2 separate regions of the Homo sapiens genome follow, and region 1 is linked to region 2. The links come from fine-mapping of genetic effects on gene expression. A gene starts in region 2. The other region holds a variant in brackets. All regions are shown on one strand. Distances are from middle to middle. Region 1 overlaps ZNF780A (zinc finger protein 780A). Region 2 holds the start of ZNF780B (zinc finger protein 780B).

Region 1 (17,004 bases), 22 kb before region 2:
AGCTATTTGTGAGAGAGTGTGTGTGGGGGCAAGGGGAGTGATGGGAGAAGGGTGGAAGTGTGCGTGTTAGCAGGAGTAGTTGAGAAATAGGAACGGAGGATAAAATAGTTATTTGCTTTTGAGACACAGCTTTAATTGTGGCCTTTTTGTTGTTGTTGTTTTCCAGGGGAGAAGCCCGAGGAAGATTGACCAGTTTTGTAATTCTAGCAACATGGTCCATGTAAGTTTGTATTTCTCTCTTTTCCTTGAAATATGGTGACTTTCAGGTTAGGTGACTGTTATTATTTAACCTGAAGCTTCGTACCTAGAATTCACGATCTTACACCCCAGTTTGTCCCATTACAGTGAAGGTTGGTGACAAAAAAAAAAAAAGTCACTGCTCTTCCTATTTGTACCTCTGTTTCCTACTGGCTTTGATGTTTTCTTTGAAAAAGTTATTCAGTCTGTGCTCTGTGCTCAGACCTTGGTCAGGAAGAATATTGGAACAGTGGAGGAATCAGTCCCCACAGGGAAACAGGGTCTTATGGGTTTGATAAGTTACAGATGATTGACCACACTTGGGAACACTTTGAAACTTTACAGACTAGAGCTTTCCAGGTAGCTAAGGTAGAATTCCATAGTGAGTAGCCTCAGTCTGCAAGTGTGACAAGGTGATCTGCTTTATGAGGCTTTTAGGAAAATGATAGGTGAGGACAGTGGGCAGTAGCAGGGAGAAGATAATTCAGGGCATGAATGATAGGTGATTACAGATTCTCTGGCTGGACATGGTGGCTCACGCGTGCAATCCCAGCACTTTGGGAGGCCGAGGTGGGTGGTGGATCACTTGAGGTCAGGAGTTTGAGACCAGCCTGGCCAACATGGTGAAACCCCATCTCTTCTAAAAAAAGAAAAAAAAAAATTAGCCTGTTGTGGTGGTGCGCACCTGTAATCCCAGCTGCACAGGAGGCTGAGGCAGGAGAATCGCTTGAACCTGGGAGGTGGAGGTTGCAGTGAGCTGCGATCGTGCCACTGCACTCCAGCCTGGGTAACAGAGTGAAATTCTGTCTCAGAAAAAAAATAAAAAATAAAAAATTCTCAGAATTGGGGAAATCCTTAGAGGCCCTGGCCATCCTCAACGTATAAATAGAAAAAAAATGAATAAATCTAATATGTGAGTTCTATTGACTTTAATGCAGCTTATAAAAATCAGTTGTCATGACAAGAAAAAATACTTTTGCTGTCATCTCATACCATAATGAACTTGAGGATTAAGAACATTCTTTAATTGTATGCCACCTTTTTTTTTTTTTTTTTTTTTCTCTGAGACAGAGTCTTGCTCTGTGGCCCAGGCTGGAGTGCAGTGGCGTGATCACAGTTCACTATAGCCTTGAACTCCTGGGCTCAAGCAATACTCCTACCTCAGCCTCCCGAGTAGCTGGGACTACAGGTACGTGATACCACACACAGTTACTTATTTAATTTTTGCAGAGATGGGATATCATTATGTTGCCCAGGCTGGTCTCAAATTTCTAGGCTCAAGCAATCCTCCTATCTCTGCCTCCCAAAGTGCTGGGACTATAGGCATAAGCCACCATACTCAGCCAGCAGGAGACTTCTTGAAGAATGTGCAGGCACTCTGTGAATTTCCATATTGCTTTTTTCTTACACTACACTCCTTCACTTCCTCTCCTTTCATCTTAAAACAACTTTCTTCAGTTTCACCATTATACATGTGTTTGTGGTTTCAGGGATCAGTGACATTCAGGGATGTGGCCATTGACTTCTCTCAGGAGGAGTGGGAGTGCCTGCAGCCTGATCAGAGGACCTTGTACAGGGATGTGATGTTGGAGAACTACAGCCACCTGATCTCACTGGGTAAGGTCGTTGAGTCCCAGCTATTTTTATATCTATTTTCTGGAATATCAGCTTTCTTCACCGTGAATTTCAGGGCTATCTTTTAAGAGGTGGCTGAATTCCTTCTTCTTGTTCCCAAAGGAATGGATTGGGATTTGTTGGGTTGAAAACAGGCACCTCCCTGGAGCCCCTGCATCTTGCCTACTCCACAATGGCCTCCTTCGTTACGCTGGTCCTCTCTGTAATTGCCTCTCTCTTCATGACCATGGGGCTGAATTTGAAATCTTGTACATTCATTGAAAGATATTGTCTAAGAACCAGATTTCATATTATGTTTGATCTCAGAATTACTGTAGATTTTCTGTTTGTTGGTTTGTTTTTGTTTTTCTAACCCATCTGTAAGGAGAAGAGTGTCTTGAATTTTTCTATCAGAGAAACCTCTATGATCACTGGGAGGTTGAGGCTGCAGTGAGCTGTACCCATCACTGCACTCCAGCCTGGGCAATAGACCGAGACCCTGTCTCAAAACCAAAAACAAACAAACAAAAATGTCTGTTATTTACGTATACTGATTGGGTTGACAGAAATTCATTTAACACTAAAGGGAATGCATTTCATTTCCTTCAATAAACATTCCATTGTTTTGCAGTTGAAAGTTTCAGACCATGGAGTTTATGTATTTTCATTTAGTGAATATACTGAGTGAGCTATAAATGTCTAAGGATGCAAAATAAATGACAATAATAAACAATAATTCTTGACTTTGTGCTACTGTACATCAGGCAATGTTAGAAGTATTTTGCATATATATAACTTATTTTGTCTTAGTATCAATCCTATAAAATAGGTATTGTATCATCCCCATTTTAGAGTTGGGAAAACTGAAGGACAGAGTTTAAGTGACTTACCTGAGGTCATACTGCTAGTGAGTAGCAGAGATAGGATTTGAACCTGGCAGTCTGGATTGAAGTTTCCTGCTCTCAACCATTCAGTTATACCTCTTTTCAAGGGATAAGATTCTGAGTTTAAATGAAAGGAAGTCCTTTTCTAACATAGTTAGAAAAGAGTTCTCTTACTCAACCTCTCACTCTTATCTGAAGTCTCTTTTCAATATTGTTTTGACTTGTAATTTATTGTAAGTTTAAGCAGGTCACAAAGATTTGAAAAAAAAAAATCTGTATTAAAAAAATTCTACATGTGTCGTTTCTTTTAAGCAGGAAGTTCCATTTCTAAACCAGATGTAATTACGTTACTAGAGCAAGAGAAAGAGCCCTGGATGGTTGTAAGGAAAGAAACAAGCAGACGGTATCCAGGTAAGTGAGGGTAAAGCAGGCGGGGGGAAGCCATCATTGTCCTGGACATGTGCTCAGAAAGGAGTCATACACTTGAGATGTGGTTTGAAAAGCTTTCTTCAGTGACCCAAGTCCTGTTGGATAAAAATGCCCAAGACCTGGGAAGGAAATAAAGATTACAGCAGAAGCCATCACCAAGGAACTTCATCATTTACTAATCACCTAATTTCTGTTCTCTTATTTCCTTCCCCTTTTAGTGGAGTAAGTTCCCTCTTTTTTTCCCAGGGTAAACTTTTTTTTTTTTTTTAAGGTGGAATCTTGCTCTGTCCTGCAGTGTGGAGTGCAGTAATCTGATCTTGGCTCACTGCAACCTCTGTCTGTTGGGTTCAAGCAATTCTCATGCCTCAGCTTCTCAAGTAGCTGGGATGACGGGTGCCCACCTCCACACCTGGCTAATTTTTGTATTTTTAGTAGAGATGGGGTTTCACCATGTTGGCCAGGTTGTTCCTGAACTCCTGACCTCAGATGATCTGCCCGCCTCGGCCTCCCAAAGCCCTGGGATTACAGGTGTGAGCCATCGTGCCCAGCCCATTTGCCAACTTTTTAATTGGATTTTTTTTTTTTTTCCTGTTATTTGAGTCTCTTGTCAGAGAAATAGTTTGCAAATAATTTCTCTCATTTAATTTTGTCTATTCCCTCCGATGATAGTTTCCTTTGCTCTGCAGAAGCGTTTAGTTTAATATAGTCCCATTTGTCTATTTTTGTTTTTGCCGCCTATGCTTTTGCAGTGTTAACCAGAAAATTTTTGCCTAGGTCAATGTCCTGAAGCACTTCCTTTATGTTTTCTTTTAGTTGTTTTATAGTTTTGAGTCTTACATTTAAGTCTTTAATCCATTTCCAGTTGATTTTTGTATACGGTGAGAAATAGGGGTCTGGTTTCATTCTATCACATACGGATATCCAGTTTTCCAGCACCATTTATTTATTTATTTTTAATTTATTTTCCAACTTTTATTTTAGGTCCAAGGGGTACATAAGTGGGTTTTTTATATGGGTAAATTGCATGTTGTGGTGGGTTTGGTGTGCAGATTATTTCACCACCCCGGTAATAAGCATAGTACCCAATAGGTAGTTTTTGGATCTTCGTCCTCCCACCCTCTACTCTCAAGTAGGCCCTGATGTCTGTTTTTCTGTTCTTTGTGTCCATGTGTACTCGGTGTTTAGCTCCCATTTATAAGTGAGAATATGTAGTATTTGGTTTTCTGTTCCTTAATTAATTTGCTTAGGATAATGGCATCCAATGCCATCCATATTGCTGCACATAATCTTGTTCTTTTTTATGGTTGCATAGTATTCCTTGGTGTATATGTACCACATTTTCTTTATCCAGGTAACCATTGATGGACATTTAGGTTGATTCCATGTCTTTGCTATTATGAATAGTGCTACAATAAACATAGGCATTCATGTGACTTTAGGCTAGAACTATTTTCTTTTTTTGTTTCTTCCTTGTCTGGTTTTGGTTTCATGGTATGCCAGCTCCATAGAAAGAGTTAAGGAGAATTCCCTTCTCTGAAATTTTTTGGAATAGTTTGAGGAGAATTAGTTCTTTGAGAGTTTGGTAGATAGAATTCAGCAGTGAAGCCATCAGTCCTGGAGTTTTCTTTTTTGGGTGACATTTTATTACTAATTCAATCTCATTACTCATTGGCCTGTTCAGCTTTTCTATTTTGATGATCTTTTCTGTTTCTGTGGTGTCAGTGGTAATATCTCCTTTTTTTATTTCTGATTTTGCTTATTTCTTCTCTTTTCTTCTTGGTTAGTCTAGCTAGTGGTTTATTAATTTTATTTATGTTTTTTAAAAAACAACCTTTCATTTCATTGATCTTTTGTATTATTTAGCCTGTATTTTATTTAGTTCTGCCCTAATTTCATTAGATCGTTTATTTGAAATCTTTCTGCTTTTTCAATGTAGGTGTTTATTGCCATCAACTTTGCTCTTAGCAGTACTTTTGCTGTATCCCATAGGTTTTGGTATGTTGTATTCTGATTTTCATTTGTTTCAAGAAATTTTTTAATTTCCTCCTTATGTTCTTTCTTGACCCAGTGGTTATATAGGAGCAGGTTGTTTAATTTTCATGTGTTGTACAGTTTCCAAAGTTCCTCTTGTTACTGATTTCTCATTCTATTCCATGTCTGAGAAAAGACTTGATATAATTTTGGTTTTGAAGAATTTGTTAAGAATTGCATCCTAACATATGGTCTATCCTAGAGAATGTTCTGTGTGCTAATGAGAAAATGTGTATTTTGTAGCTATTTGATGAAATGTTCAGTAAATGTCTGTTAGGCCTGTTTTGTCTAATGTGAAGTTTAAATCCAATGTTTCTTGTTAATTTTCTATCTAGATGATCTGTGTAATTCAGAGTGGGGTGTTGAAATCCCCAATGATTATTGCACTGGAATACATCTCTCTCCCTTTTGATCTAATAATATTCACCTTATATATCTGGGTGTTCTGGTGTTGGGATTATAGTATGTTTAGAATTGTTATATCCGCTTGCTGAATTGATCCCTTTATCATTATACAGTGATCTTCTTTGTCTCTTTTTTGCTGCTTTTGACTTAAAATCTTTTTTGTCTGATATAAATATAGCTATTCCTGCTCACTTTTGGTTTCCATTTGCATGGAATATCTTTTACCATTCCTTTACTTTCAATCCATATATGTCTTTACCAGTGAGATGAGTCTGTTGGCAGCATATAATTGGGTCACTTTTTAAAAAATCCATTCCATCTATATCTTTTAGATGAAAAGTTTAATCCATTTACGTTCAATGTGATTACTGATATGTGAGGGCTTATTCTTGTCATTTTATTAATTGATTTCTAGTTGATTTGTGTATCCTTTGTTCCTTTCTTTCTCTTTTATTTTTCATCATTGTGGTTTGGTTGTTTTCTATAGGGGTAACATTTGGGTTCTTTCTGCTTATTTGTGTTTGCTGTGTCAGTGGGTTTTATAATTTTGTGTGTTTTCACAATGGCAGATATTCTTTCACTTCTAGGTGTAGGACTCTTAAGCATATCTTGTAGAGCTGGTCTGCCCTCAGCTTTTGCCTGGGAAAGATTATTTCTTCTTCATTTATGTTTTATAATTTGCTGAGGATAGTATCCTTGACTGGCAAGTTTTTTCTTTCAACATTTTGAATATACCATTTCATTCTCTCTCATTTCTTTCTGTTGAGAAATCTGCTGTTCGGCTAATGAGAGTTCCCTTGTAAGTGACTAGATGCTTTTCTCTTCCTGTTTTTAGTATTCTCTCTTTGTCTTTGACTTTTATATTTTGACCATAATGTGCCATGGAGAAGACCTTTTTGTGTTGTTATGTATTTGGGTATCTCTGAGCTTCCTGTATCTGGATGTCTACATCTCTTGCTAGAATTGGAAAGTTGCCAGCTGTTATTTCATTAAATAGATTTTCTTTCCTTTATTTTTTCTCTTCATCTCTGGGACCTCAAAATTTCAAATATTTGGTTGTTTTATGATGTCCCATATAGGGTCTTTGTTTCTTCTTCTTTTTTTGTTTTTCTATTTTTGTCTGACTGGGTTATTTCAAAAGAATTGGCTTTATGTTCTGAGATTCTTCTACTTGATCTAGTCTGTTGTTGAAGATTTTGAATGTATTTTATATTTTATTCAATGAATTATTCAGTTTCAGAATTTCTGTTTGGTTCTTTTTTATAATGAAATTGGTAAGTTTCTTCTTCTTATCCTGAGTTTTTTTTTTCTGATTTGTTTGTATTGTTCTTCCGAATTCTCTTGTATCTCACTTAGCTTCTTTAATATAATTATTTTGAATTCTTTTGCTAGGATATAGCATTTTTCTCCCATTGGAATGTTTCTGGAGAATTATTATGTTCCTGTGGAGATGTCAAGTTTCCTTCTCTTTTTTTTTTTTTTGTTATTTCCTGTGTTTATTCTCATTTTTTTGAATTTGCTTTTGTAGGGGAGGCTTTTTTCCTAAAGATGTACCTATGGTTAATAGGGTTGGATAGGGCATTTTCGCTTTGATTCTGGGCGTGTGCAGTAGTGTTGTTATGTAGTGTTATGATTTTTTTTTTGGCTGTAAACAGTGCCTTTGGTGTCTGTGATTTCTTCCTTGGCTTTGGTTGTGATGGTTAGTGGAGGGTATGGTGAAGTTTTATTGGGGATGAGGAGTGATATAGTTTAGATATTTTCCCCTCTAAATCTCATGTTGAAATGTAATCCCCAGTGTTGGAGATGGGGCCTGGTGGGAGGTAATTGGATCATAGGGGTGGATTTCTCATGAATGGCTTAGCACCATCCCCTTGGTGCTGTCCTCACAATAGTAAGTGAGTTCTTGCAAGACCTGGTTGTTTAAAAGTATATGGCACTTCTTCTTGTTCTCTCTCTTGTTCCTTCTCTTGCTGTGTGACATTCTTTGTCCTGTGTTGCCTTCTTTTATGAGTAAAAGGCCCCTAAAGCCTCCCCAGAAGCTGAGAAGATGCTAGCGCCATGTACAACCTGCAGAACCATGAGCCAGTTAATACTCATTTTTT[C/T]GTAAATTACCCAGTCTCAGGTATTCCTTTAATGCAAGAATGGCCTAGCACGAGGACACAAGGTAGGCAAGTCCTTGGGCTCTGGTGGTGGCAGTGGCAGTCCAGATGTGCCTGTTTTGGGGCCCCAGCATAGTGTATGCTGGTACTAGTATTAGTGTGTCTAGGCACGTTGATTCTTTGGCCTCCTCGTAGTTTGGATAGTGCTGGCAGTGGTAGTGGTATGCTGGGTAGGTGGATGGGTTCTTGGATTCTTGGGCAGCAAGTGTGGCATGGGTGATGGTAGTAGTAGTGAACAGGACAACCTTCTGGCTCCCAAGCAGTAAGTGCTTAGTGTTGGAGGTGACTATGATGGGCTGGGTGGGCCAGTCCCCAGAACTTCCGGTTGTGAGTACAGGTGGGTACCAGTTGTGGAGGAAACAGCAGGTTGTATGTGTCTGACCTTAGGCCTCTGTGATGAGTGCTTAGGTAGCAAAGGTGGTAGATGGATCAGGGTGATCCCCAGGTCCCCAGATGGTGTGCTTGGGGACTTGGGCACAGAGCTGGGTCTGCTGGACCTGACCTTAGGCCCCCCAGTTGTACGTGCTGGTTCTTGTGGTAAGCAGGGGTGGGGTGATCCCCAGGCCCCTGGCAGAATGCTGCTGTTGATTTTCTTTTCCAATGTGAGTTGAAATTTTCTTGTATATGCCAGTATATTTGGATTGTATCCTGGACATTCTAATTACTGACTATGAAACTATGGGTCTCATGGTCTTAAGTCCTATAGAACATATCAATATGTTTCAACAGATAGTTGACCTAGTTAGGTTCAATCTTCTGTGGTTCATTTTCCTATTTTTACATGTACATAACCAGGCTGGCTCAGATGTGCATTTGCTTCCACTGGAAACAGAAGTGATATGAGAAAGGTTCTATCTACCAACTTTGTTGGTTTTGGCTAATAAAATCAATAAAGGTTTTATTGGTTTGAATTGATGGTTTCAGTTGACAAAAGGACTTTGTATGCATGTGTGTTATACGAAAATAAAATAGGTTTGCTTTCTTCATTTCTTTCAGATTTGGAGTTAAAATATGGACCTGAGAAAGTATCTCCAGAAAATGATACCTCTGAAGTAAATTTACCCAAACAGGTTATAAAGCAAATAAGTACAACTCTTGGCATTGAGGCCTTTTATTTTAGAAATGACTCAGAATATAGACAATTTGAGGGACTACAGGGATATCAAGAAGGAAATATCAATCAAAAGATGATCAGCTATGAAAAACTGCCTACTCATACTCCTCATGCTTCTCTTATTTGCAATACACATAAACCGTATGAATGTAAGGAATGTGGGAAATACTTTAGTCGTAGTGCAAATCTTATTCAGCATCAGAGTATTCATACTGGAGAGAAACCCTTTGAATGTAAGGAGTGTGGGAAAGCCTTTCGACTTCACATACAATTTACTCGACATCAGAAATTTCATACTGGTGAGAAACCTTTTGAATGTAACGAATGTGGAAAGGCCTTTAGTCTTCTTACCCTGCTTAATCGCCATAAGAACATTCACACAGGTGAGAAACTGTTTGAATGTAAGGAATGTGGGAAGTCCTTTAATCGTAGCTCAAACCTTGTTCAACATCAGAGTATTCATTCTGGTGTAAAACCATATGAATGTAAGGAGTGTGGGAAAGGCTTTAATCGTGGTGCACACCTTATTCAGCATCAGAAAATTCATTCCAATGAGAAACCCTTTGTATGTAAGGAATGTGGGATGGCCTTTCGATATCATTACCAACTTATTGAACATTGCCAAATTCATACTGGTGAGAAACCCTTTGAATGTAAAGAATGTGGAAAGGCGTTTACTCTTCTGACAAAGCTTGTTCGACATCAGAAGATTCATACTGGTGAGAAACCCTTTGAATGCAGGGAATGTGGGAAGGCCTTTAGTCTTCTCAACCAGCTTAATCGCCATAAGAACATTCACACAGGTGAAAAACCGTTTGAATGTAAGGAATGTGGGAAGTCCTTTAATCGTAGCTCAAACCTTGTTCAACATCAGAGTATTCATGCTGGTATAAAACCATATGAATGTAAGGAGTGTGGGAAAGGCTTTAATCGTGGTGCACACCTTATTCAGCATCAGAAAATTCATTCCAATGAGAAACCTTTTGTATGTAGGGAATGTGAGATGGCCTTTAGATATCATTGCCAACTTATTGAACATTCTCGAATTCATACTGGTGACAAGCCATTTGAATGTCAAGACTGTGGGAAGGCCTTCAATCGTGGCTCAAGCCTTGTTCAACATCAGAGTATTCACACTGGTGAGAAGCCCTATGAATGTAAGGAGTGTGGGAAGGCTTTTAGACTTTACCTACAACTTTCCCAACATCAGAAAACTCACACAGGTGAAAAACCATTTGAATGTAAGGAATGTGGGAAATTCTTTCGTCGTGGTTCAAATCTTAATCAACATCGAAGTATTCATACTGGAAAGAAACCCTTTGAATGTAAGGAATGTGGGAAAGCCTTTCGACTTCATATGCACCTTATTCGACATCAGAAATTGCATACTGGTGAGAAACCCTTTGAATGTAAGGAGTGTGGGAAAGCCTTTCGACTTCATATGCAACTTATTCGACATCAGAAATTGCATACTGGTGAGAAACCCTTTGAATGTAAGGAATGTGGAAAGGTTTTTAGTCTTCCCACCCAGCTTAATCGCCATAAGAACATTCACACAGGTGAGAAGGCATCTTGAATGTAAGGAATGTGGAAAGTCCTTTAATCGTGTCTCAAACCATGTTCAACATCAGAGTATTCGTGCTGGTGTAAAACCATGTGAATGTAAGGGGTGTGGGAAAGGCTTCATTTGTGGTTCAAACGTTATTCAGCATCAGAAAATTCATTCCAGTGAGAAACTCTTTGTATGCAAGGAGTGGAGGACGACCTTTAGATATCATTACCACTTATTTAACATTACCAAATTCACACTGGTAAAAAACCCTTTGAATGTAAAGAATGTGGAAAGGCCTTCAGTTTTCTGACACAGCTTGCTGGACTTCAGGTCATTCATACTGGCGAGAAGCCATTTGAATTTGAGAAATGTGGGAAGGCCTTCAATAGTGGCTCAAACCTTGTTCAACATCAGAGTATTCATACTGGTGAGAAACTCTATGAATGTAAGGAGTGTGGGAAAACTTTCAGATTTAGTTTGGTCCTGACTGCACATCAAAGAATTCATACTGGTATGAAACCCTGTGAATGTACAGAATGTGGGAAGACCTTTAGTTGTAGCTCAAACATTGTTCAACATGTTAAAATTCATACTGGTGAGAAACGCTATAATGTAAGGAATATGGGAAAGCATTTGCTGTGGATGATCAGCTGTCTCAACATCAGAAAATTCAGAATAGTTAGAAATTTTGTGACAATAAGGAGTGTGGACAAGCCTTCACTGTGTACGAAAAATTTACTCAACACCAGAGAGCTCATATTGATGAGAAATCTTGTGAACATAAAAGAATGTGTGAAGAACTTTCATCATGGCCTGGGATTTGCTCAACTTCTGAGTATTCATACTTCTGAGAAATCTTTGAGTGTAAGGAATGTGGGGCGTTTTATAGCCACACTAAATACCTTAGAGTTCGGAGAAGATAATTCTTGTGAGAAAGTCTTTGAATGAGGAATATAGGGTAGTTGTCATGTTCACAATGTACTCCCTATGAAATAATTTACCAGATACAGGCATACCTCGCTGAATTGTGCATTGCAGTTATTGTGTTTTATACAAACTGAAGGTTTGTGGCAACCCTGTGGTGAGCAAGACGATCAGGTCCATTTTCCCAACGTCAGGTGTGCATTTCATGTCTTTATGTCACATTTTGGTAATTCTCAGAATATTTCAAACTATTTCATTGTTATATATCTATCATGGTGATCAATGACCAGTGATTTTTGATGTTGCTATTGTAATTGCTTTGGGATACCACAAATTCTGCCCATAAAAGATGGTAAACCTAGTTGATACTTGTTGTGGGTTTTGAAAGAATAGTCAAATATACAATCATATACCCCAACCTAGATTCAAAATTGTTAACAATTTGCACGTTTATTTTTTGTATATTTGTTGTACCATTGAGAATAAGTTTTAGACATCATGACACTTTACCCTTTATTTAATCAACGTGTGTATCAACCAAACATGAAGACAATATAGACAATATCATATAGCCATTGTACCATAATTACCGTTAAGGAAAGTATTCATAATTCTGTAATATCATTCCATTTTCAGATTTCTTCATTGGCTTCCAAACCATCTTTTACAGCTATTCATATTCAAAGGAGAATCCATTGCAGAATCTGCATTGCATTTGGTTATCTCTCTTTAGTGTATTGTAGCCTGGAAATCCTATGAATGTAGGCGCTCAAATTTTGGTAGGTATTAGAATCAACAGTGGCACTTAGTAAAGCTACAGAGGCTTAAGCCCTAGCTTATAATTCTGGGCCTCTATGTTTTTTATTATTTCTCCAGGTGATTGTGATACCAACCAGAGTTAGAGAGCCACTGACCTAGAACATTTCTCCTTTCTCCTCATTCTTCTTTTTTTTTTTTTTTTTGCAGTTGCAAGATTTAATAGAGTGAAAACAGAGCTCCCATACAAAGGGAGGGGACCCAAAGAGGGTAGTCGTTGCCGGCTCGAATGCCTGGGTTTATATCCTGATCATTGTCCCTCCCGCTGTGCTCTCAGGCAATAGATGATTGGCTATTTCTTTACCTCCTGTTTTTGCCTAATTAGCATTTTAGCGGGCTCTCTTTCTTACCTGATGGGTCGGGTGTGAGCTGAGTTGCAAGCCCCGTGTTTAAAGGTGGATGTGGTCAACTTCCCATCTAGGCTTAGGGATTCTTAATCGGCCTAGGAAATCCTGCTAGTCCTGTTTCTCAGTACCCCCTCTCAACAGGAAAACCCAAGTGCTGTTGGGGAGGTTGGCCAACAACTGCTCTAATTGCTTCCTGCTGAATTGGGGTGTAGTAGGGGTTGTGCAGTTGAGATTTCCTCTGGAGGGGTGCCTTCGATGTCATTAACATTGGAGCATGGGCTAGCAGGCCGGTCCAGGGGTCCGCGGTAGATTTTAGTCATGGACTGCATCTGGGGCTCCATTTGAAGAATGAGTTGTGGCTTTACAGCTTCGATTCTGGAAAAGACAAACTTAACAAGGAGGTTAAAGATACAGAGATTGAAATGTATGGCCTGCAGTGCAGGGGATTATTTCTTTGGCACACTTCACAGGCCCTGACTATCTGCTTGATAGTTTTGAAAAGGCCTGGTCCATCTCCTCATTCTTAAAAAATGAGATTGAATTTTGATTAGCCCAGGAAAATTGTCTATGTGTTTAGATTTCTTTCTTTATAGTGTCATTTAGTGTTGTTCTCTTTGTTGCATATTCTGTACAAGGGAATTTGAGTCCAGAGGCTCTGTTAGGTCAGATTAAACATTTTGGGGAAGAATACTTTGTAGGCTATTTGTATGGCATATTTCACTGTCAGAAAACATTTAAGTACAGGTCCTTGCATTAGTGAAACTAAGTTTGATCATTTGGGTAAGCTGGTAACCGCCATAAGTCCATTGTAAAGATCTAATTTGTAGTGCATAAATAATCTATGGAGAGACTTTGACCTCTGAATATTTATAATCATGTGTATTTTAGCTGTGGATTGAATACAAAATGAAAATTGAAATAGACTATTCAAAAATGAATGCCATTAAGGTTGTCAACATAAGTCAACTTGTGTGATAAGGCTGACAGTATATTCAGTACAAAATTAGCACCCTCTAGTTTATTCAGGGAGCCAAGATTATTTTGTCTGGAACCTTGTTTTTGTTCAGCATTTATCATCAGCACCTATACATCATGGCTGGTATGTGAGCTGTTGATAAACTTTGAAAAAAATTAAGCCTTTAAATCAAGCTATAAAACATGATACCATTGTGGCATCATGAATTAGAGAGATTAACTTTTTTAAAGATCAATAATAATCCTTTGTGATTTTATTCCAGTGCATTTAAAAATCTATAAAATGATAATTTATATTGATAGCTTTCTTCTTTTTGTGAATATATCCTTATCAGATTATTATGCTTTTGATAGACTACTTAATTCTATTTCTTAACATTTAATTGTATCTATAATCATAGGTAAAGTTATAATTTTCTAAACATTTTTCAGGTTTTGTTAATGCAGTGATCTTATAAATCTTACAAAACGAGGCTATTTAAAACCTGGCTTTCTAGTCTCATGTTCCTATTTTTTATTTCCACTTTCATCTTTTTCATATTGATTCTCTTTGACTTTCTTTTTTGAACTCAACAGATTCCCTGGGTATTAACCCAGCACAACTCCTTTATGGGTCATTGCACATTCTGGTATCTCATTAAGAATTGTCATAAAAAAGAGATCCCAGGAGGCCTTCCAGTGAAACTCTATCATCATGCAATCTTGGGATTTCTAAGTTGGAAGTCACAGTCCCTTTGCAAACATAATAAAACACTTTAAAATATTTGCTAAAGTTACAAACCAATTATGTAAAAATTTAAAAATCACCTACTACTTTTAAAAGCAGAGAAGGCATCCATAGACTATTTCCTTGCTTACAAGCTCAGTGAACATACTGAATTCACTTATAAAAAGAATTTTCTCAATTTTAGTTGCTTTTCAAAAAATTCTTATTCCTTTTATTTGTAATTCTTTGACATTGTTGCTGCTTCACAGTTTTGGTAATTGGACAGTTTGGTCTTTATTATGATATTAACATTTTTACCTGTCCTGAAACAAGGAAATACAATCAAAGAAACAGAAGATTGGTGGACCTTGAACCACATTATGATATCAGATGACCCAGAGTCATGGTTACTAAGTTGCTTAAATTTTTAGTAACAAAGATGTATTAGAAAGTGACAGGTCAATTCAATAATGGTTTTTTTGGATACATTTAATTATATAATCCCCTTAAGTTGTGCTTAGTCAGCAGTATTTAATCTGTTGTCTATTATATATCTAACTGGTCTGTTATGTTTATTATATATTTATATATTGCTTATTCATATCTTATTGGAGTAACTCATTTTTAAAACAATATATTTCATCTCCTAGGAGAAGAGGATCGAGTATGTGTTTTTATTCTTTTTCATTAGGACATTGGGGTATTTTCTTATTGTGAAATGTATTGAATATTTCATTTATTTGGTTTGTGAGTCTGACCTTCACTCCCTAGCACTGATTTTTATTTGGCCCTCCTTTTACCTGATTCATAGGAGTTACGAGTAGCCGTTAATATGGATACATTTTTCCCATTTCTAGTACACTGCCCCTTCCAAAAGTGTCTGGCTTACTCAAACTTTTCTGTATTTGTTCCATCTTGCTTTTACAGATCAATACAAATAGGTAACTATACCTTCTAAACAAACATCAAGTTGGTGGAAAAAAGGCATATGAACAGTTCTTTCTCACCTACTATCAACAAACAGTAAATTAAACATTCCTAACTGCAGCCTCCTTTTGTAAAATTTATAACCATTTATCTTTTGAGTGTGACATGATACTAGATGTATGATAATTACATGTTTTGTGTATCAGTATGAACATGATTTTTAACAGACTTGTTCCAATGAACTATTATAGAGATGGTCCCCAACAATGTCAACTAACAATTTCTCAGCTTTATGATGGTACAAAAGTGATATGTTGCTATAGTTTGGATATTTGTCCCTCCAAATCTCATGTTGAAGTTTGATCTCAGTGTTGGAGGTGGGGCCTAATGGAAGGTGTTTGGGTCATGGTGGAAGATCCCTCATGAATAAATTAATGCCCTCTCTGGATTGAGGGGTGAGTGAGCTATCGCTCTGTTAATTTTTGTGAGAGCTGGTTGTTCAAAAGAACCTGGCACCTCCTCCCTCACCCTCTTGTTTTCTCTCTTGCCATGTGATGTCTGCATACACTGGCTCTCCCTTCATCATCTGCCATGAGTGGAAGCAGCCTGAGACCCTTAGCAGAAGCAGATGCTGCACCATGATTCTTGTACATTCTGCAGAACAGTGAGCCAAATAAACCTCTTTATTAATCACCCAGCCTCAGATATTCTTTTGTAGCAATACAAAATGGACTAAGACATACTCAGTCAGAGTATGCTCCTCAAACTAAGATGGGGCTATGTTAAGTTGAAAATATTGTAGGTCATAAATACACATTTGGCATATGATGTTTTCAATTTGTGATGGGTTTATTTGGATATAACGCTGTCATAAGTTGAGAAGCATCTGTAGTAATTATGATAATTTGATGTGTAGCCAGTAGGAGTCCAGTTACATTTGTTTTTTTGACTTCTTTTTTTCTTTTTTTTTAAATGAATATTGTGTTCAGGTCCTAAGAAGATGTTTTAGACTGATCCTTCTTTGTTGGTCCATGTTCCCCATGCCTCTTGTCCTGAGTCATGGAATCAACCCATGATTCAGTACCCTCGTAGGGTGTCCTGGTTCTATTTAGAGGAAAAGAGCCTTTGAGACCAAGAAATCTGGCTGCTATGGGTGCACATGGCAGTTACAGGTATGGAAGAAGATGCTGGTTTTGTTAGAATTCTTTTAATAGTTTCAGAGTAGAAAATGTCATTGTAAGGTCAGAAGTTCACTCTGATTTTTCTCAACTTACATTTCTATGATCTGCTCTTGTTTGCATTTGATATTTTATTGAATTATAAGGTTTTATGTATGGTGATAGCTGAGAAGTTTATCTCCTGCTAGGGCCTGCCTGAAATGACACATTAATCTGCTTGCCCATTTTTGGAGATATTGGTCTGATTCAAATTTGTCATGGTGTTTCTGAGCAGTGTTATGAAGAACATTCAATAATGGATAATAGATAGATAGATAGATAGATAGATGGATAGATTTATATTTGAGATGGAGTTTTGCTTTTGTTGCCCAGGCTGGAGTGCAATGGTGCAGTCGTGGCTCACCACAACCTCTGCCTCCCAGGTTCAAGCGATTCTCCTGCCTTAGCCTCCCAAGTAGCTGGGATTACAGATGCCTGTCACCACGCCCAGCTAATTTTTGTGTTTTTAGTAGAGACAGCTTTCAGCATGTTGGCCAGGCTGGTCATGAACTCCTAACCTCAAGTGATCCGCCCGCCTCAGACCCCAAAGTGCTGGGATTACAGGTGTGAGACATCTTGCCCAGCCGACAATAGATAATATTTTGAATGTTCATAGATTCTCCAGAAAAAAACTGGACAGAAGATTTCTGTCATCCTTTTTTTTTTT
Region 2 (17,004 bases):
GGAGACGATAAATGAACGAGATCCAACTAAATGCTATCTATAAGAAAGTCACTTTAGATCTAAGGACACACATAGTTTGAAAGTGAAAAGATGGGCCGGGCGCAGTGGCTCACGCCTGTAATCCCAGCACTTTGGGAGGCCGAGGCGGGCGGATCACCTGAGGTCAGGAGTTTTAGACCAACCTGACCAACATGGAGAAACCCCGTCTCTACTGAAAATACAAAAACTTAGTCGGGCTTGGTGGCGGGCGCCTGTAATCCCAGCTACTTAGGAGGCTGAGGCAGGAGAATGGCGTGAACCCAGGAGGCGGAGCTTGCAGTGAGCCGAGATCGTGTCACTGCACTCCAGCCTGGGTGACAGAGCGAGACTCCGTCTAAAAAACAAACAAAAAGAAAGTGAAAAGAAGAAAAAAGATATTTCATGCAAACAGCAATTAAAAAGAGTGGGCATGGCTGTATTAATATCAGACAAAATATACTATAAGTTAAAAAAGGTTAGAAGAGACAAAGAATATATAATAAAAGGGTCAACTTACCAAGAAGATATATCAATTACAAATACATATACACTAAACACCTGAGCTCCAAAATATATGAAGGACACATTGACAGAATTGAAGGAAGAAATAGACATCTATGCAATAATAGTAGGAGACTTCAATACACTACTTTTAATAATATGTAGAGGAACAGGACAGAAGATAAATAAGGAAATAGGGGACTTGAACCAATTGGACCTAACACACATATATACATAACATTTCCACTCAACAATAGCAGAGTGCACATTTTCCTCAAGTGCATGTGGATTATTATCCAGGATAAACTATGTCTTAGGCCACAGAAGAAGTCATAATGTTAAAATATTGAAACTAGAATTCAATAGCATAAGTAAAACTGTAAAATCCACAAGTATATGAAAACTAAGCACACTCTAAACTAGTGGATCAAAGAAGAAATCAAAACAAATGAAAATGAGGTAAATGAAAATGAAAACACAACATACCAAATTTATGGGATGCAGCAAAAGCAGTGTTAAGGGAATTTTATAGCTGTTAGTGTTTACATTAAAAAAGAAGAAAGATTTCAAGTCAGCCCCCTAACTTTATGCCATTAGAAACTAGAAAAGAAGAAGAAACTAAATCTGAAGCTAGTAGAAGGAAGGAAATGAAAATATTAGGCTTGAGATTAACATATTAGAGAATAAAAAATAGAGAAAATTAGTAAAACTAAGAGTTGGTTATTTGAAAAGCTCAACAAAATTGAGAACCATTAGGCAGATTGATTAAGAGAGGAAGACTGAAATAACTAGGATCAGAAATGAAACAGGGAACATTCCATTCCTACCAACTGTATACTAATAAAAAGCATTATTCAAGAGTACTTTTTACAACGGTATTCCAATAAATTTGATAACCTAGACAAAATGGAAAAGTTTCTAGAAACACACACCTTTCTAAGACTCAATAATGAAGAAATAGAAAATCTGAATATACCTATGACCAGTAAGAAGAATGAATAGCAATCTAATACCTCCTAACAAAGAAAAGCCAAAGACTACATGGTTTCACTGGTGAAGTCTACCAAATGATTTTACATCTTTATTCTTTTCTAGCACTATAGGCATTTAAAGCTAAAAATAAAAACATATTTAGCTGCTCCAAAAATTTGGATTGTTTTTGTTTTTATTAAAAATACATTCTAGGCAAGGTGCGATGGTTCATGCCGGTAATCCCAGCATTTTGGGAGGCCAAGATGGGAGGGTTGCTTGAGGCCAGGAGTTTGAGACCAGCCTGATCAACATAGTGAGATTCTCATCTCTATTTTTAGGAAGTAAAATAAAAAATACATCCTAATTTCTCTTATAATTTATTCTTTGATCCATGGGGTATTTAACAATGTGTTGAATAATTTCAAAATATTTTTACATTTCCCAAATTTCCTCAGTGTTTGATTTCTAATTTTATTTTCACTGTGGTCAGAGAATATACTTAGCATGACTTACTTATAAAAAATATTATGATTTGCCATATATAAGTCTAGTATATTGTTTAGTTTAGAAAATGTTGCATGTTGAGTATGTATTTTATTGTTGGTTGAGTGTTCAACCAACCATCAGTTAAGACAAACTAGTTTGTAGTGTTGTTTAAGTCTTCTATATCCTTGCAGATTTTCTGTCTAGTTGTTGTATGTATTGAGAATAGAGTGTTAAAATCTCCACCTTCTATTGTTGAGCTGTCATTTTCTCTCTTCAGTTTTGTCAGTTTTCCTTTCATGTATGTAGTCTCCTGTTTTTAGGAGCATATACGTTCATTGTAGTTATATTTTTCTAATTAACTTGCCCTTTTATCATTAAATAAATCTCTTTTTCTTTAGTAACATTTTGAAAGCCTGTTTTGTCTGATGGTAGTATAACCATTCCTATTCTCTTCTGATCACCATTTGTATGGTATCTATTTGTATCTTTTTCCATCCTTTTGTTTTCCGTCTGTTTTCAGCTTTTAAAAAGAACTAATGTATATCTTAGCTTAAAAAAATCTAATTGAGATTATTGCTAAAATAATAACAGTAGTCGTCAGGCATGGTGGCTCACACCTGTAATCCCAGCACTCTGGGAGGCTGAGGTGGAAGGATTGCCTGAGCCCAGGAGTTCACGACCAGCCTGGGCAATATAGTGAGACCCTGTCTCTACAAAAAATTAGAAATAAAATTTTAAAAATCAAAATAAATAAAATAATATCAATAGTATACAGAAAGTTTACTCCAATATAGCTCCCTTCCTTTGTGCTATCATAGTAATATGAATGTGACACAAATTACAACTTTATACATTATGAACAAAATAATACAATTGTATAATTATGGTTTTATGCAGTTATCTTTAATCAGTTAAAATAAAAAAGTAAAAGTGTATATTATCTTTTATTTACCTATGTAATGACTTTAATCAGTGCTCATTATTTCTTTGTGTGGATTCCAGTGACCATCACCTTCATTCTAAAGAACTTTAATATTTCTTATTAGGAAAGTCTGCTAGCAACAAAGGCTTTCAGTCCTTATCTGCAATTCTCTTTATTTTATCTATATTTTGAGAGAGAATATTCTGGATATAGAATTCTTGGTTGACTGGTAGGGTTTTATTTGTTTTTGTTTTGTTTTGTTTTGTTTTTTGTTTTTGTTTGTTTTAGTACTTTGAATCTCATCCCACTGCCTTTTGTTCTCTGTTGTTTCTGATGAGAAGTCAGCCAGTAGTCCTGTTGAGAATCTCGTTTATATGATGAATAATGTTTCCCTTGCTGTTTTCAAGATTTCCCTTTGTTCTTGGCTTCTGACAATTTGACTCTGGGGTAGCTCTCCTTGAGACATGTTGATTAAGTATTAATATCTGGGTTTATCCCACTTGGAGTGTGTTCACATTCTTGTAAATGTAGGTGTGTGTGCATGTGTGTGATCAACTTCACAGAGAGTTTGGCCATTATTTTTCAAGCATTTTTTCTTTTTCTTTCCTTCTGACCCTCCTCTTATATGTATGTTGGTTTGCTTGATGGTGTACTACATGCCTCTGATGCTTTCTTCATTTTTATTCCTTCTGTTTTTCTTTCTGTTCTTCAGACTGCATAATTTTATTGACTTGACCTATTTTCAAGTTCACTAATTCTTTTTTCAGGTTAAATCTGCTATGAGTTCTTCTAGTGAATTTTTCATTTCAGTTATTGTGCTTTTCAACTCTAGAATTTCTACTTGGTTCTTTCATTGCAGTAATAATTTCCATCTCTCTGTCGATAGTCTCTGGCAGGGTATTATTGTCATACTCTTCTTTAAATTCTTTACATATGGCTTGTTTTAGTTCTTTGAACATAATTAAAATAGCTGCTTTCAGATCTTTGCTAAATCCAACATTTTTGCTGTCTCAGAGACAGTTGTCTACTAGCTGCTTCATTCCCATCCCCTCTGAGTGAGCTACTTGGATTCTTTAGCTCCTGTGAAAGTTTGTTCATGCATAGATATACGTTTAAATTGATGTTTCTGTGAGAGCTAAGTGCTGGAAAGTCCCATTCTTCTATCTTGCTGACATCACTCCTGTTAAGATTTTCTATTTTTTCTTGAGTCAGTGATAGTTTGTGTGTTTCTAGGACTTTTTCCTTTCCATTTAGGTTATTTTGTTGACATACAATTGTTTATAATTTTCTTCTATCATCATTTTCATTTTTGTAAGTTTAGTAATGTCTCCACTTTCAGCTCTGACTTTAGTAATTTTGATGTTTTCTCTTTTTTCTTGTTCAGTCCTGCTACAGTTTTGCCACTTTTTTTGATCTTTTCAAAGAACCAGCTTTTAATTTTGTAAGTTTTCTCTATTATTTTTCTATTTTCTATTTAATCTAACCTCACTTTTATCTTTATTATTTCCTTTCTTCTCCTGGTTTTGCTTTTTTTTTTTTTCTATTTTTCATATTCTAATTCCTAAGTGTATACAGTTAGGTCATTGATTTGACATCTTTCCTCCTTTTTATAGGCATGTAGAGCTATAAATTTTTCCCTGAGCAGTAAGCATCTCATGAACTTTAGTAAATTTGTATTTATCTAAAATGTTTTCTAAATTCTCTTTTTATTTGTTCTTTAACCCTTTGGTTGTTTAAGATTCTGTTGATTTGGCACAAAACAGTGATATCATCTATCCTTACTCCTATTCAGTATAGAAATTCAACAGAATTTCAGTTATCAGAACTTGCCAACATGAAGACAATGGGATTTAGTCCTACAAATTAAGGAAGAAACTGAATAAATAAAGTCATGAACTAACGTATTATATACAGGATTTAATTTTGAAATTCTTCAATTTTGCATAGGACTTTCTTCAGCTATGGCAGTAGTCTTTTGATGGTGCTCCCATTTCTAACTGGATACATTTACAATTTGTGTTAGAATGGAATGCAATTGAGAAGGTTTATGTTTCCGTAACACCTAAATTTGGCTTAACATTCAAAGGTATCATAAATTGAGCCAATTTGTTTGGCTTTAGGAATAATTTTTAAATAAATGTACCCTTCCTAGACTAAGTGGCAAAAAAAAAAGTAGAAATGTACTGTGAAGGCAAAATACATCAACTGCTAAAATATTTGCAATCTAATATTCCATATTCACAATACTCATGAGGATATTTTCCATTTCATTGGCTATATTCTAAGACTTCTGATTACCTTAGTATATGCAGAGTATATATCTCAATTTAAAAGGTATGGTGTTCAGAGAAGCGCCATTTGAAGGTAGCTATAATTTCAAGTTTATTAACCATAAAGTCCAGCATTGAGGATTACATACAATTTTATCAAAATTTAAAAATAATAGACTGTGTCAAAAAAAATCCTTAAAAATATGGTGATACTGGCTAAGAAATTGATTAAAGCATTGGAATATATACCAAAAATAATTATTCTGCTCTTTAATGCATAGTCAATATAGATAGCTTAAAATTTTTTCCTTACTACAAAAACATTATTTTGTTTTAATGCAAATATGTTATTGTTTACCCTTTAGGATATAACAGAAAATTATGACTCATAAAGGAAATTTTCAAACATTATATAATTTCAATTATCATAGTATTCATACATTTTCAAATTTTTACTACTTTGGACAATATATAGTGAGCTGTTATTGATTTCTAATTTAATTCCATTTTTGTCAAAAACATTCTTTGTATGACTTGAGTCCATTTACTCATTTATGGAGACTTGCTTTATGGCCCAGAATATGGTATACGCTGGAAAGTGTCTCCTGTCCACCTAAGATGAATTTTACTGTCTTTGAGAAGAGTGTTCCAGAAGTGTAAATGAGATCAAGCAGGTTGATATGTTGTTTAGATAATCTATACCCTGTTGCTTTTCTGCATTAGTTCTATCAATTACCAAGAGAGATATGTTGAAATATCTGATTATAATTGTGGATTTGTCTGTTACTTTATTGATCTAACAGGTTTTTACTCACATACTTAGAAGCTGTATTAAGAGCATAATTTAGGTTTGTTCTTTCCACTGGATGAACTGTATCCTTCATCATTATGATGATGTAACTTTCTTTATCCCTGATATAGTCTTTTTGGTGAAGTCACTTTGTTTTTAATATAGCCACTCCAGCTTTCTTTTGACTAGTGTTAGGATTTTATATATTTTTCCATCCTTTTACTTTTAACCTATTAGTGCTTTTATATTTTAAGTATTACCTGTAGGTAGCACGTATTTGGGTCTGACTTTTAAAAAAAAAATCCAACCTGACAACCTTCTTAAGTTAAGGTGTTAGACCAGTTACACTTAATGTGATCATTGATCCAATTAAGTTTGTTATCTTGCTATCTGTTTTCTGTCACAGTCGGGAATGAAAAGACATTTTGCTCTTCATTATTCCACGTTTCCGCTTTATATAGCATAGGAAACTACAAAAATCATTTTGAAAGTTCAATGTTGCTAGATTACAACAGTGAAATCAAGCTTTTCCTACGAAAAACAAACCCCCTTTGGCATTTATTTAGACTGTTTTAAGAAAATGTGTTAATTATTCATCCTTCAAGATAAGGCAAGTAATTCTCTGTGTACTTTTATCTGTTTCCATGCCGTCCTGAATCACGTTTTTCTCTCCAGATAACAGGAAGATTGTCTTGAAGAATCAAGTATATTTGATTCTGAAATCTCTCATGTAAACCACACTTCCTCTTCTAGTATAAAACCAACGATTCCTTTTCTTTCTTTCTTTCTTTTTTTTTTTTTTTTTGAGACGGAGTCTCTCCAACCATTTCTTTAGTTCAGGCTTTTCAAATTTATCCTAAGTCCCTTCAAATAGCACAAAGGGGAAGCCTATGCTCGGATCTGAGACGAAGAGGTCAAAGCAGCTACATTTTGACGTAATTTTACTTTAAATTCTTCTTTAAAAGTTCTGCTCATTTGCATTCTTTTGCATAGAGAGAAAAGGTAATTTACCCTGACGCACCGAAAACAGCAACGCTCCTCTCAGATGGGGATTCTCGCCCGTGGCCGCAACCTCTGCACCCCACGGTCTGGAACTCCCACAAATCCATTAGGCTCGGGTCCCTTAGGAGCCCCCAATGTATGCTGGGATCAACCTGAACAGACCATAGACCAAGACTTCTGAGGTTCTTTCTGCTCAGGACTGTATTTCCCAGAGGCCACCGCACCGGAATTAGCGGTTCCACTTCCTGTCTCCTGGGGTTGACGACCTAGCTGGGTAAGGTCTTCACGTCCTAGGAAGAAATCGGTGGCTGCGGGAGGTCTTCGTGGACTGGGACTCGAACCTGACCGACCCGGCAGTGCGGGTGGGCGAGAGCGAGGCGCTCAGAGGAGGAACCCGGGGCGCAGACGGAATCTGCCAGATCCTTAGGCGTGCGTGTGCGCGGGCATCAAAGGATGGGGATTGCGCGATCTTGAGTGACGGAGGGGACTGTGTGAGTGTGTGCGTGAGGCCCTGTGCACAGGACCGGGACGGCGTGTGGACGCAGTGCGTTTTGCTGGGGCTGTGTGAGTGTCACTGTGCCGGTGGTACTAGGCTCCTGCTGCTTCCTCCGTCTTTCCCCTTCAAAGCTGCAGAGGCTGCAGCAGAGGAATGAAAATGTCCCCAGTAGGGAGGTTAGATATTGAACCGAGAATGAAGCTTTGCACAAGAAGGCGCAGATCTGGACTCGGGGTGGGAATATGAGAGCTGGAAGTGCCTCTTGAGGGTCCCCCAGGAGGGCAGCTACATGTTGAGAACCCAGCGTCCCTCAGAGATCTGTCCCCAGGAACCAGCTTCGAACTCAGACCGATTCCTCCTCCTTTTATTTCCTTCTCATTTCGTACGAAGTGAGGGAAGTTGTGGCCATGGAGGGTGCTTTCAAACTTAGTCTGCGCTCCAAGAAAAGCCTGGAGTCTCACGCTTGCCGTATCCTTCTCCAGTCGTATTATTATCCAAAAGAAGGACCGAGAGGAGGATGAGAGCGTTATTGTTGCACACTTAAGTCAAGGGTGAGTTTGTGCTTTGTATTTGTTCAAGAAATGCGTTTTTGATTTTAGAATATAGAGGTTCCTGTAAATTTTTAGTGAATTTCAGGAGAATATGCAAATTGATTCTTGCCCCCTCCCATTGTGCCGCCTCCCAGCGAGCCGTTCCCCACCCCGCCCGCTCCCCACCTTGCCATTTAATATTCACAGAGCCATTTGGCAAATCGTTCACACCTTCCTGTACGCTCTCTTCTTCTAAGCTGGTATAAAAATAGTCCTCCAGAGGTTTATATTAAAGCTTTATTTTAGACTCTGCTTTGAAAAGAAGATTAGTTTGTGGAATCACACGCCAGGTTTCTGACTCTTTACAGGCCTCCTTTTCCAAGTAGGGAAGAATGGAGATGGTTGGGTGATTTCCATTCGTCTGTGAGGCTTTCAGGAATCGGAAAGTGATTGCACAGAAATTGGTATCAACCAGAGTCAGGATTTTTCGGGAGAGTCCATGAGATGATAATTGTAATACTTGCCAGATCTCTGTGAGATTCGGCAGTTCCGGTTGCATTTTGGGCTATTTGTGTGAACTGTGAGAGGCAGTACGCTGTTGCGGTTAAGAATAGGGGAGTGGATCCAGAGTATCTGGGTTGGAATGTTTGTTCTGTCCGTTTCTGGTCTTCTCAGGCTTGTAATGAACATTAGAATGAATTAATACTCTAAAACCTCTTAGAGCAGTGCTAGGCATATAATAATAAATGTTTAATGTTTTAGCTTTTGTTTTCGTGTGGTCATTTTAGGTCATTTCCCTTGACTTTCTATAGGACAGGAGCATTGGGAATATGTGATTCATTGTGATTGCTGCTTGCATAGTAAGAAAATGAGTGAGTTGCTCAAATGATCTAGGACAGAAGTTCTTTTTAAATTGACAGATAAAATTGTATGTATTTATCGTGTGCAACATGATGTTTTATAGTATATGTACATTGTGGAATGACTAAATCTAGCTAATTAGCAATGCATTACCTCACATAGTTATCATTTTTGTGGTGAGAACACTTAATATCCACTCTCTTAGCACTACAGAATAGTTATTAATAGTAGTTATTAATAGTAGATACGTTGTTGTGTAATAGATTTCTTGAGCTTATTTCTCTTATCTTCCTGAAATTTTATATCCTTTGACCAACATTTCCCCAGCCAACACCATCTTCCCTCCCTCACCCACATTACCCCCGACCTGTAAACACCATTCTCTTCTCTAATTCTATGATATCAAGTGTTTTCTTTTTTTGAGAGAGAGTGTCTTACTCTGTTGCCCAGGCTGGAGTGCAGTGGCGTGATCTCGGTTCACTGCAACCTCTGCCTCCCGGGTTCAAGTAATTCTCCTGCCCCAGCCTTCCGAGTAGCTGGGACTACAGGTGCATGCCACCACACCCAGCTTATTTTTGTATTTTTAGTAGAGACAGGGTTTTGCCATGTTGGCCAGGGTGGTCTCGAACTCTGGACCTTAGGTGATCCGCCTGCCTCGGCCTTCGCCTCCGCTTTCGAAAGTGCTGGGATTACAAGTGTGAGCCACCGCACCTGGCCTATATGAACATTTTTCAGATTCCACTGATGAGTGAGATCATCTGCCTTTCTGTGCTTGGCTTACTTAATATGAATTTCTCCAGGTTCATCCATGTTGTTGCGAATGACAGCATTTCCCTTTTTTTATGGCTAGTTTTCCATTGTGTATATATACCTGCATATATACCACATTTTCTTTATCCATTCATTGATAGACAGTTAGATTGATTCCATATCTTGGCTATTGTGAATAGTGCTGCAATAAACATGGGTGTGCAGGTGTCTCTTTGGTATACAGATTTCATTTCCTTTGGATAAATATCCAGTAGTAGATTGCTGGATCATATGGTGGTTCTATTTCTAATTTTTTGAGGAACCTCCATGCTGTTTTCCATAATGTCTGTGTCACTTTACATTCTCACCAACAGTGTGCAATGGTTCACATTTCTCTACATTCTCACCAACATTTGTTAACTTATGTCTTTTCAATAGCCACCCCAACACATATGAGGTGATATCTTATTGTAGGTTTAATTTTCATTTCCCTGATGATTAGTAATGTTGAGTATTTTTTCATATACTGTAGCCATTTATATGTCGTCTTTTGAGATGTGTTTATCAGGTCCTTTGCCCATTTTTTAATTGGGTTGTTTTCTTGCTGTTGAGTTCCTCACACGTTTTGGATATTAACCCCTTATTAGATACATGACTGCAAATATTTTCTCTCATTCTGTAGGTAGTCTCTTCACTTTGCTGTGCAGAAGCTTTTTTAGCTTGATGTAATTTCATTTGTCTATGTTTGCTTTTATTGCCTGTGCTTTTGAAGTCATTTCTAGAAAAAAAAATTATTGCCCAGATCAATGTCATGAAGCTTTCCCCGTACGTTTTTTTCTATTTGTTTCATAGTTTGGGATCTTACATTTAAATCTTTAATCCATTTAGAGTTGATTTTTGTATAATGGTTTGAGAAAAGGGTCTAATTTCATTCTTCTGTGTATGACTCCCCAGTTTTCACAACAGTATGTATTGAAGAGACTGTCTTTTCCTTATTGTATGTTCTTGGCACCTGTCTCAAAAATCAGTTGGTTGTAAACATATGGATTTATTCTGGGGCTCTCTATTCTGTTCCGTTTGTCTAGGTGTCTGTTTTTATGTCAGTATCATGCTGTTTTGGTTACTATAGCTTTGTAGTATATATTGAAGTCAGGTAGTTTGATGCCTCCAACTTTGTTCTTTTTGCTCCAGACTGCTTTGGCTATTTGGGTCTTTTGTGGTTCTATGCACATTTTAGGATTTTTTTTTTTCTATTTTTGTCAAGAATGTAGGACTGAAATTCTTAATCTGAGTTCTTGTAACTCCACGTATGGTCTTGGGGACCACAAAGCTCTTGAAATAATGTATTGAAGTACTATGGAAATTTATCAATGTGGGTTTTAGAGGGAGAAATAGTATATCATTTCATAAGACTATCAAAACTGTATGTGACCCATGAGGTTTGGATCCATTGATCTAGATAGAACATTGATTCTCAGCGGGGGTGATGTTTAAAAACTTTTGGTTGTCACACCATGGGGGAGGTGCTACTTAGATCTAGTGGATAGAGGTCAGGGATACTGCTGAACATTGTACCGTGCACAGGATAACCCTCCCTATAGCCCCAACAAAGGATTATACAGCACAATATGTCATTAGTGCCTAGGGTGAAAAACCTTAGTCTAGAATCAAAAGATTGTGATACCTGGAATGACACTGTAAATGATCTTATATAAATCAAGTGTCCTGTAATATGGAAATCACTAAGCAAATTATACTAGACTCAAGTGATAAAGTATTATGCAGCTAATAAAATGATGTCTATAAAGAATTATGAAAAGAAAAATATTTGATATACCATTAAGCAGTATTCATGCTATGAACAATGATACTCAAGAAAATGTTACATGTATATGAATCCCATATACTAAGATAGGGTTTTTGTAAGGCATTCTGTAGGAATTGTATCCAAAATGATATTTTAATGAGTTATTTGGTGAAGAAGGGAACCAAGCATGGTGATGTACATTCCACAGATTTTCTCATGTAGTTTCCAGATGCCACTTATCTGCATTGTGTTCATTCAGAGAAGAGTCTTGATAATGAAAATGTCTAATTATATTGGTGAGATACAGCTAAAGGATGTCAGAACTAGCTGATGTTATTTGTTATAGTCACATTAATCTTTTTGATCCTCATGACAGGCACAGTTTTTTGTTTTTTATGATTAAAAGTACTCACTCTCTGTTAACTCTGTTTTATTTTTATTTTTGAATTCGGATGTAGAAATATGACCATCATTAATGCATACAAGAAATTAGTTGAAGACTTGTAGACAATTTTTTTTAGAAATTGTACTAACATACATAGAAAAACATAGACATCTTAGTGTTGGTCAAGAATTGGGAAATAATGGAAACAAATTTATTACATAAAAACAAGAGCTCAGTAGAGTTTCCTTTTTTTGTCCCCACGTTGAAAGGAAAATGTCTAAATAAAAGATGTCTTTCATCTAATTTGGAGAACAATTTCCTCGCAAGAAAAAAAATGTGTATGTACATTTAAATATGTACATATATAGATACATACACATGTGTATATGTGTGTATATATGTGTGTGTGTGTGTGTGTGTGAATATAATTATATATTCTAAGTTAAATGCCTGGGCATAGTCACAATTATGACATACTCTTTAGCAAAAAGAAGAAAATTGGGGCTACAATACAGAGATAAGCACTGTTAGCATGCATATACCTGTCTAAATTTTTGTATTGATGTCTATTAGTCTTTTGCTTAATATTTCTATATACATATATTTTACAAATGTAATCGTATTGTTTATCCTGCTTTGTAACCTGATTTTTCTGTTAATCATATGTCTGGAACAATTAATGATTACTTTGTATTCTATTACATGGCTATTCTGAACTGTACTTACCCCAGCTGGCTTTTGGTGAACTCAGAATGCTGAACACTGCCCATGCAATTCTGTCTATATCCTTTCCAGTTCTCATGCCTTGCCCCACTGCACCCAATCCTGAGTTCACAAAGAGGTTCTGGATTGGATGATGCAAGCCCTTCTCAGCTCTGAAAGGTGGACTAGGGGAGGAGGATTGCTTACAGCAGGATCAGAGGCCCAGTCCTAGGCCAAGATTGGTATCCCAAGAGTGGAGGACTGGCTGGAAGCCACAACTTCAAGGCAGAAATGCCTGTGCTCGGCATTCATGCTTCCGCCGCAGGTTCCCTGGGATGTAGGCGAGAGCTTGGTTTCATCCACACTCCACCTGTTCACTGCCAGTTTATTTGTGAGAGTGTGTGTAGGGAAAAAGGGAGTGACGGGAGAAGGGTGGAAGTGTGCGTGTGAGCAGGAGTAGTTGAGAAATAGGAATGGAGGATAAAATATTTATTCGTTCTAGTGCTTTCGGACACAGCTTGACTTAGGGCCTTTTTGTTGTTGTTGTTTTCCAGGGGAGAAGCCCGAGGAAGATTGACCAATTTTGTAATTCTAGAAACATGGTCCATGTAAGTTGGTGTTTCTGTCTTCTTGAAATATGGTGACTTTCAGGTTAGGTTAGGTGACTGTTATTATTAAACCTGAACCTTCTTACGTAAGGATCCACGATTTTTTTTTTTTTTTTTTTTTTTTTTTGAGACGGAGTCTTGCTCTGTCACCCAGGCTGGAATGCAGTGGTGCGATCTTGGCTCATTGCAACTTCCGCCTCCCAGGTTCAAGCAATTCTCCTGCCTCAGACTCCCGAGTAGCTGGGACTACAGGCACCCACCAGCACGCCTGGCTAATTTTTTGTATTTTTGGTAGAGATGGGATTTCACCATATTAGCCAGGATGGTCTCGATCTCCTGACCTCATGATCCCCCTGCCTTGGCCTCCCACAGTGCTGGGATTACAGGCGTGAGCCACTGTGCCTGGCCAGGATCCACAATCTTACACCCCACTTTGTCCCATTACAGTGAAGTTTGGTGACCAAAAAATAAAAGTCAGTGCTCTTCCTATTCGTACCTCTGTTTTCCCACTGGCTTTGATGTTTTCTTTGAGCAGGTTATTCAGTCTGTGCTTAACTCAGTCCTTGGTCAGAAAGAATGTTGGAACAGTGGAGGAGTTGGTCCCCACAGGGAAACATGGTCTTGTGGGTTTGATAAGTTACAGATGATTGTCGCATTTGACCACACTCGGGAACACCTTGAAACTCCTCCACAGACTGGAGCTTTCTAGGTAGCTGAGGTAGAATTCCATAGTGAGTGGCCTCAGTCTGCAAGCGTGACAAGGTGTTCTGCTTTATGAGGCTTTTAGGAAAGTGATCAGTGAGGACAGTGGGCAGTAACAGAGATTATTCAGGGCATGAGTGGTAGGTGATTACAGATTCTCTGAATTTGGGAAAACCTTAGAGACTCTGACCATCTTAAATGTATAAATAGAAAAATATGACTAAATCTAATATGTCAGTTATTTTGAATTTTACGCAGCTTATAAAAATCATTTGTCATGACAAGAAAAAATACTTTTGCTATCATCTGATACCACAGTAAGCTTGAGGATTAACGGCATTCCTCAATTGTATGCTGCCACCTTTTTTTTTTTTTTTTTTTTTTTTTTGAGATAGGGTCTCACTCTGTAGCCCAGGCTGGAGTGCAGTAGTGCCATCACACTTCGCTGCAGCATTGAACTCCCAGGCTCAAGCAATACTCCCACCTCAGCTTCCCAAGTAGCTGGGACTATAGGCACATGCCACCACGACAGTTCTTTCTTTCTTTCTTTTTTTTTTTTTTCCAGGGAGTGCATCTCGTTATGTTGCCCAGGCTGTTTGCCAACTCCTGGGCTCAAGCAGTCCTTCCACCTTGGTCTCCCAAAGTGCTGGTATAACAGGCATGAGCCACCACACCAGGCCAGCAGCAGGATTCTTGAAGAATGTGTAGGCACTCTGCGATTTTCCATATTGCTCCTTTATTGCAGTTTAATCCTTCACTTCCTCTCCTTTCGTCTTGAAACAACTTTCTTCAATTTCACCATAATCCATGTGTTTGTGGTTTCAGGGATCAGTGACATTCAGGGATGTGGCCATTGACTTCTCTCAGGAGGAGTGGGAGTGCCTGCAGCCTGATCAGAGGACCTTGTACAGGGATGTGATGTTGGAGAACTACAGCCACCTGATATCACTGGGTAAGGTCATTGGTCCCAGTTATTTTTGTATCTGTTCTCTGGAATATCAGCTTTCTTCATCATGAGTTTCAGGGCTGTCTTTTAAGAGGTAGTTGGATTCCTTCTTCTTATTCCCGAAGGAATGGATTGAGATTTGTTGGGTTGAAAACAGGCACCTCCTTGGAGCCTCTGCATCTTGCCTACTGCACCAGGGCCTCCTCCATTATGCTGGTCATCTCTGTAATCCCCTCTCTCTCTTCATGACCATGGGGCTGAATTTGAAATCTTGTATATTCGTTGAATGATATTGTTCAAGAACCAGGTTTCATATTATGTTTGATCTCAGAATTACTGTAGATTTTCTTTGTTTGTTTTTGTTTTTCTGGCCCACCTGTAAGGAGAAGAGTGTGTTGAGTTTTTCTATTAAAAGAGCCTCTATGATTGCTTGAACCTGGGAGGTCAAGGCTGCAGAGAGCCGTGGTCATGCCACTGTACTTCAGCCTGGGCAACAGAGCAAGACACTGTCTCAAAAAAACAAAACAAAACAGAGCCTCAATGATTTACATATACTGATTGGGTTGACAGAACTTATTTAGCACTAAGTCAGTATATTCCATTTCCTTCGACAGACCTTCCGTTACTTGTTTTGTAGTTGAAAGTTTCAGGCCATGAAGTGTATGCTTTTCTGTTGGGTGAAAATTCTTAAAATGAGCTGTAAATGTCTAAGGATGCAAAATAAATAATGACAATAAACATAATAATTTTTAACTTTGTGCTACTACGTATGAGTGAGAGTTAGAAGTATTTTACATATATTACCTTATTTAATATTAGTATCAATCCTATAAAACAGGCATTATTATATTTCTGTTTTAGAGTTGGGAAAACTGAAGGACAGAGAGTTCAAGTGACTTACTTAATGTCAAAGTACTAGTGGGTGGCAGAGACAGGATTTCAACCAGGTAATCTGGCTTGAAGTTTCCTGCTGTTAACCACTAAATTATACCTCCTCTTGAGGGATAAGTTTCTATTATGAGTTTAAATGAAAGTGCTTTTTTTTTTTTTAAACATAGTTGATCCCTTACTCAATCCTCTCTTATCTGGAGTCTCTTCTCAATATTGTTTTGGCTTGTAATTTATTATAAGTTTAACTAGGTCTCAGGGTTTAAAAAAAATTTTTATATTAAAAAAATTCTACATGTGTTATTTCTTTTAAGCAGGAAGTTCCATTTCTAAGCCAGATGTGATTACATTACTAGAGCAAGAGAAAGAGCCCTGGATTGTTGTAAGTAAAGAAACAAGCAGATGGTATCCAGGTAAGTGAGAGTAAAGCAGGCAGGGGGAAGCCATCATTGTCCCGGACAGCCCATGTGCTCAGAGAGGAGTCACACCCCTGAGATGTGGTTTGGAAAACTTTCTTCAATAACCCAAGGTCCCCCACTGGACAAAAATGCCCAAGACCTGGGAAGGAAATAAGATCACTGTAGGAGCTGTCCCCAAGGAACTTCATCATTTACTAATCACCTAATTTCTGTTATTTTCTTCCTCTTTTAATGAAGTGAGCTTCCTCTTTCTTTCCCAGTGTAAACTTTAAACAGTTTTTAAAATTATTTTTTAAGAGGCAGCATCTTGCTATGTTGCCCCAGCTGATCTTGAACTCTTGGCCTCAAGTAGTCTTCCTGCCTCAACCTCCTAAGTAGCTGAAATTACAGGCATGAGCCAATGCTTCTGGCCCCCAGTGTAAACTTTTAACACGTATTTTGGATCCAGCTACTTTCCAACTCTGCTTTTGCATTTAGATTTCTACATGTGTTTTCACTAAGAAATGTATTCATGTTCAGTAAATATGTATAGAGTGCGCATTCCTAGAAGGCATATGCTTGGCTCTGGTCAATACTGTAATGTACAGGTAATGAACAAGACTGAGAAAGTCACTGCTGTCATGGACTTTACCAGCAGTTGGTGAGACATGCCTCAAACAAGTAAGCAAATGAATAGATAAGGAATACCAAATAATCATGCTATAGAGACAAGGAAATAGGAGTGATGGGGTGAGAATGGCAGCACTTGGGTGCTTAGGGTACCTGTCTGGAAGTGGGCTTGCTTGCATAGAGATGTGAAGTAAGTGTTCAAGTACTCTAGTCAGACTGAGCAGGAAACACAAAGGTGGAGTAAGTAATGGAACAGCGGGAAGAAAGGTCTGAGAGTTACGTCGGAGTCGTATCATACAGGGTTTTGACTGTCGTTGTGAGGAATGTGGGAAGTTCTTCA

The links. PIP is the estimated chance that this variant, and not a neighbour inherited with it, causes the effect.
Region 1: its variant is fine-mapped to the expression of ZNF780B in whole blood (TOPMed, PIP 0.98).

What each region holds. Positions count from the first base shown.
Region 1 is chr19:40,067,961-40,084,964 of GRCh38, reverse strand. ZNF780A (zinc finger protein 780A) reads left to right here. Exons shown (of 6, transcript NM_001142578.2): 3 at 167-220; 4 at 1,728-1,854; 5 at 3,051-3,146; 6 at 8,756-11,920. The coding sequence starts at 212. The coding sequence ends at 10,449. Among named protein-coding and RNA genes, the nearest start is that of ZNF780A, 14 kb to the left of the region's middle. The variant C/T (reference allele first, on the strand shown) is at 7,703.
Region 2 is chr19:40,046,420-40,063,423 of GRCh38, reverse strand. ZNF780B (zinc finger protein 780B) reads left to right here and starts at 7,193. Exons shown (of 5, transcript NM_001005851.3): 1 at 7,193-7,235; 2 at 13,047-13,100; 3 at 14,628-14,754; 4 at 15,954-16,049. The coding sequence starts at 13,092. RefSeq lists an enhancer at 7,204-7,333.